Regions from separate parts of the Homo sapiens genome. Here region 2 is linked to region 1. The links come from fine-mapping of genetic effects on gene expression. A gene starts in region 1. The other region holds a variant in brackets. All regions are shown on one strand. Distances are from middle to middle. Region 1 holds the start of MYO18A (myosin XVIIIA). Region 2 holds the start of LOC124903967 (a long non-coding RNA gene).

The links.
Region 2: its variant is fine-mapped to the expression of MYO18A in whole blood (TOPMed, PIP above 0.99).

What each region holds. Positions count from the first base shown.
Region 1 is chr17:29,179,246-29,182,146 of GRCh38, reverse strand. It overlaps MYO18A (myosin XVIIIA), which reads left to right and starts at 1,749. Exons shown (of 42, transcript NM_078471.4): 1 at 1,749-1,834. RefSeq lists silencers at 1,670-1,890, 1,856-1,905, 2,026-2,075.
Region 2 is chr17:29,139,709-29,142,609 of GRCh38, reverse strand. All of the region lies in intron 2 of MYO18A (myosin XVIIIA), which reads left to right. It overlaps LOC124903967 (a long non-coding RNA gene), which reads right to left and starts at 2,136. Exons shown (of 3, transcript XR_007065693.1): 1 at 2,084-2,136. RefSeq lists enhancers at 1,692-1,741, 1,892-1,981 and a silencer at 2,442-2,491. The variant T/C (reference allele first, on the strand shown) is at 1,165.

The DNA.
Region 1 (2,901 bases):
CTCAGGAAACACTAATGATAGTCGTTGTCCTACTTAGCCTGCAAGGTTCCGCTCAAATGTCATGTTTTTGGGGTTTTTTTTTTTTCTTTTTTGGAGACAGAGTCTTGCTCTGTCGCCCAGGCTGAAGTACAGTGGTGTAATCTCCGCTCACTGCAACCTCTGCTCCCCAGGTTCAAGAGATTCTCCTGCCTCAGCCTCCCAAGTAGCTGGGATTATAGACATGCACTACCACGCCTGGTTAATTTTTTGTATTTGTAGTAGTGATGGGGTTTCGCCATGTTGGCCAGGCTGGTCTTGAACGCTGGCCTCAAGTGATCTGCCCACCTCAGCCTCCCAAAGTGCTGGGATTACAGGCATAAGCCACCATGCCTGGCCTCAAATGTCATGTTTTTGAAGCTGCTCTTCTCACTCCTCAAGCCAAATAAGCCTCCCATCATAGCACCTATCTCATCATCCAAGTAATGCCAGCATGGTGAACCCTACTACTGTCACAGCTCAGGTCTACCTGTTCCCCATGTGATTTCCCTGGAGATATGCCATGTCTGATCTCCTTCTGTGTCACCCCAAGTGCCTGGGGCTGCACTTGGCACTTAGCAGGCAGTTTGTTAAATTGAATTTGAGTTGCATGTTATTCCAAAATGTGTATCCCGCCTGGGTCTATTCCTCAGGAACTCCCTAACTCTTACTCAACTCTCTGCTTTCTGAGCCTCCTTGCTCCAGCCTTCCCTGGTCTGTCAGGTTGGGCTGCCCTTGCCTGGAGAAGTTCCTGTTTGGGCTGTCTAGGGAGGTAGCAGCATTTGTCTGCTACACCCTTCTTCCTGCACCACCCCACTCAGTTTCTTCCACATTCTGGCACACCCCACTCCAGCATGGACACTGCCCAGGGAAGTGTCCCCATTTCTTTCTTTCTCCAAACTCTAGACATAGCACCTATCTTGGAGGCCTGGTATCTGGATGTCCCTTGGCCTCTCCCAGGAAGTATAAACTGTCTTCTTGGTGGGTACAGCAGCTCACTTGATATTTACAGCACACAGTGGACCCAGGGACAGACTGCATTCCAAAGAGCTTCTGAAAGTGTTAATCTTGGCATTGGTGAACTCCTTTAGGGAGTGAGTGGCACTTACAGCCATGGCTCCCGGGCCCTGGTACGCCTCTTGATCCACTCCATTTTGAGGCAGGGCTGTATCAGACCAAGCTATTGGGAGTCTGTTTTTACCTTGGGGAGTGCATTCTGGCAGTGCCATCTCGGACATGGCAGGCAGTACCTGGTCTGGACTGAGCCTGGGGCACCATCCAGCAGGGCCCTGTGTGTGCCTCTGCAGAGCCACCTTGGGAGGAGGCGGCCAGTAAGACTTAATTGCTTCCTTTAGACAGCACTACCTTGAACACAGCCTGCAGAGTTCGGTGCCTGCCTTGGACAGCCCCTCTTCTATACGTTCATCATGACCCTGGTGCCTGTCCTAGGCAGTGCCACTCAGCCCCTTTCGGACCCTTTTCGGACAGCCTCCAGTGCCCAGTGCAGACAGAAACTCCAGGCAGGGCCTCTCTCAGACACAGCGAGAGGGGCTTCGGAGTCCACAGCGGACGGAGGCTGCCAGGGCAGCGCCCGGCCCGCCTGGCCCACGTCTGGCGGCGCGCACTGGCGCTGCCAGGCAGGCCGGGCGTTTATCCCCACAGCCGCCAGCAGGGAGCTCCCTTTCGGCTCGGCCTGCGCGGTCGCTGGGGGCGGCGCTGAGCTGCGCCGCGCTGCGCTCTGCTCCATCCCTGACCGGGCCGAGGCTGCTGGATGCCGCGTCTCCGCTTCTGCTGCCTGCCGGGCGGGCTCCGGTGGCCGGTGAGTGCCGGTCGGCGGCGGCGGCCGCTCGGTGGCGGGCCCGGCTTGGTGGGGCGGCGGGGCGGGCTCCGGCCGGGAGGGAGGGCGGGCGGGCGGCGGGGCCCGCCGGCTCCTCCTCCTCCTCCCCCGTCCCCTGGAAGCAGCGGCCCGGACTCCCGGCTCCCGTCCCTGGCGGCGCCGTGGAGCTCGACGCCCGGGGGTGGGGGCCGATCGGGAGCGGCGGGGAAGGGGGAACCACCGGCCCTTCCAGCCAACCTGGGGGGCGCAGGGAGGCAGGACAGGGTGGCCTTCAGTGTGGGGGGATTTGGGGCTTGGAGGCGCCCAGGTGGCCCGGAGCTGCGGGGTGGGGGCTGCAGCCTCGAGGGTGGGGGGACTTCTCCTGCCCCCGTCCAGGCCCCACGATGGAGCGAGCGAGAGAGCGGGGCGCTGAGGAAGGCAGCGGGGAAGGGGAGCACCTCTACCGACCCTTTTATCCCTCCCAGCGGCCTTCACTCTTTCACTGCCGGGCAGACTGCGGGCTCCTCTCAAAGGAGCAGCTGCTAGACAGCTGGCAAAACAATGGAGACCCCGCTTCCCTGGGCCCCCTCCTCTTGGGACAGAAGATGAGAGGGTGAATGGTGGCAGGCTTTGGGGATTAGGGAGTGCAGGCTGTGCCCTGAGACTGAATGCTCACCTCACCTTTCCCTGCAGAGGGGTGGGGTGCGTGTGGGAAGGTCGGACAAGCTGCCCCAGGCCTCTGGAGAGACCGCCCCGACGCCCCGCCCTGCTAACCTGTCATGCCAGTTGTTTCGCCAATGGGAAGGGGAGGTGGTAGGGGTGGCTGCCCCCTCACCCTGCCCCTTGTTAGTGGGGGTGCGCTCCTTGGTCCCAAACCCGGCCAGGAGTGTGGGTCATGTTCCTGGGTGCGATAAGGCCCGCAGGGACAGGCCAGGCATTGGGGCTTTGTTTTGGGGGTGGAGATGGGGGAGTTGCCCTACTGCAAGGCACATGTGTCTTGCTGATTAGTTGGAAAGGTTGCGGCCAGAATGAGCTAGAGGTGGGGGGTGGGGGAGATGGGGAGGAAGACA
Region 2 (2,901 bases), 40 kb after region 1:
CCCATATCCAGAGTTCTTGGTTCAGCAGGTCTGGGTTGGGTTCCTGGAATTTGCATTTCCAACAAGTCCCCAGGGGATGCCCACGCTGCTGGCCTGAGAACTTGGAGAACCAAAGCCCTTTCACATACATTATGTACCAGTCTCATACTGGTTGGGTAAGAGTCAGTAAAGGTGTAATCCTCATTTTACAGATAAGGGAAATTTAAGTCACCTGCCTGTGTTCACACAGCTAAATCATTCATTCATTCACTCATTCATTTAACAAATGGACATTTCTGTGCTAGGCCTTATGCTGGCCTTAGAGTCTTGCAGTTCTCAGCCTTGGCTGCATGTGAGAATCACCTGGGGAGCTTTTATCAATAAAAAATCCCAGTGTCCAGCCAGGCGCAGTGGCTCACGCCTGTAATTCCAGCACTCTGGGAGGCCAAGGCGGGCGGATCACGAGGTCAGGAGATTGAGACCACGGTGAAACCCCGTCTCTACTAAAAATACAAAAAATTAGCCGGGCATGGTGGCAGGCGCCTGTAGTCCCAGCTACTCGGGAGGCTGAGGCAGGAGAATGGCGTGAACCCGGGAGGCGGAGCTTGCAGTGAGCCGAGATCACGCCACTGCACTCCAGCCTGGGCGACAGAGCGAGACTCCGTCTCAAAAAAAAACAAAAACAAAAAAATCCCAGTGCCCAGGCCCCTGCTCCCAGACCAATTATGTCAGAAACTGAGAGGGAAAGGGTGGGCTCCAGGCATCAGTATTTTTTTCAAGTTCCCCAGTGGATTTCAGTGAGCAGCTGAGGCTGGCACCATTGTTCTAAGTAGCCACTGAAGATGTGAAGACCTGTGACACTGCACGTGCTTCAGAAGGGCCAGATGCTTCCCCTGGGGGGACATCCCACTCCCTAGAGAGCAGGACACAAGCGCCGTGTCCTAAGAGTCTGTGTATGTGACTATATGACAGTGAGACTTGGACAGCGCATGGCAGGTAGGAGGCAGGGCTGGGTTTCCATCCTCTCTGGCAGTGCTTACCAATCTTTTCATGGAGAAAGTCAGACAATGTATAGAACCAATGGCCCTTAGAGCTGGCCAGGGGCAAGAAGCATGGGGTGTATGCCAGACTGGTTAGGAGGCGGTTCTGTATCAGGGCTTCCTAGCACCACCCCCACCCCATTTT[T/C]TTTTTTTCCTAAAGAGGAAGAGGGAGGCAATGACTGTTTCCTTTTTTCTGCAGAGCTGACGGCTTCTGAGACTTGCTCTCCCTGTCTTTTGGCCCCTTGACATTCTGTTCTCCAGCTCCCATTTCAGCGTCTCAGCGGGTCCCTAGTCCTGGTCTAGGCATCCCATGGTGCTAACTGGAGAGCCAGGCCAGGATTTCTCTTCACAAGAAACACTGGCTTTTCACAGGCAGCCATCACTCATTGGCTAGACACCCATGACTTCCTCTGTCTGCAGGGCTGAGGCCCACCCCACCCTCCTCTCTGCCTGTGCAGTCCCTGGCGTCTGTGGAGGGGAGAGGGATGTAAACAAAGAGAGTGTAATTGATTCTCTGCATGTCCCCTGTGTGCTGATGGCAGTGGGGCAGTAAGTGGGCCTGCCCGTGTGGGTCTCTGCTCCTGCCAGACCTTACAGGACTGCTTTGCGGCTGCTGTTTGGGCACAGTGTGCAGTGGGCCCCGTGTGCTGTCTTGGATGTGACGTTAGTGGCTGTCTTGGCCTCTGCCGCAGTAATTAGATGGCTAGGGTAGGCCTATGATTTGGGTGTTCTCAAGAACACTGTGTTGATTGAATGTTCGTGCATGCTGGTGTGTGTGTGTGTGTGTGTATACGTGTACATGCACATGAGTGCGCATGTGCTTGTCTCAAGCTTGGCCTGTGGGGCCGGGGGCTGCAGGTCTCAAATTCCTCTGCTATTTTTAGGAGCCATATCAGCCCAGCTGTCCCGGAGCTGGGGTGTGTGTCCATAGGCAAGTCTCACCCTCCCTGTCCTTGCCCTAACCCCCTAACACTGCCTGCCCCCCACCCCAATGGCTTTACCCTAAGAGCCTTCTCCTTCCCTTCCACACACACTGCTGTATCACCCTCTCCCTCCTGGCATACCTGATACCCGAAGTCCTCCGGGCTGCTGGCTCCAACTAGGGCTGGGCAGCTCGGGACGGGAGGGGCCGGGGAGAGGGCGGGAACTGGGCGGGGCCACAGCCTGTGCTATTTTGAGCTGCTAACGGAGCCAGAGCAGCATCAGAGCGGAGTCTCCTTGCTCTGGGCTGCTCCAGGCCAGGCCATGCGGGTGAGTGTCCCTCTGACCCCCCACCCCGGAAATGTCCCAGGCTCCTCATGCTATTTCCTCATTTAGGAAAGGAGGGACCTTTTTGTGATTTCCCCAGATGTGGCTGAAGTAGGTGGGGAGAGGGGTGGGGCAGCCTTGGGGCTCCTCTCCGAGCTTCTTGGTAAGAAGGGAGTTACTCAGCCCCGGAAGCCTCAAAACCCCTCCGTGGCTAGGAGCAGGGCATCCTGGGCCTGACTCATGACTTCAGGAGTTTTGGAGGGGCACTGTCTTCTGAACCTCAGTTTCCTGGGGTTGCATCCACCCCCAAGGCTGTGACACGCCTTCCCCACCAACCATTAGTGCTTTTTTGGCCTTCATTCCTTAGAACACTGTTTTCTTCCAAAGCCCCAGCCCCACAGCACCCAAGGTCCTCGGTAGTCTTGTCTCTGCTTTGTTGCTGGTATAGCTCTTTCCTCTCTTCCTCCTTGAGAGGGGATGGTCCTTGGAGTTGTCAGGGAGCACCCTTCTCGCTGTCCCCAAGAGTAGTCTTAGCATGGCCACCTCCATTTCTGTGCATAGGACACTTGCAAGGGGCACAGATGGCGTGTTGGGGATGCTCTGACTGGCCCTAAGTCTCTTTTTTAGTAGAGAT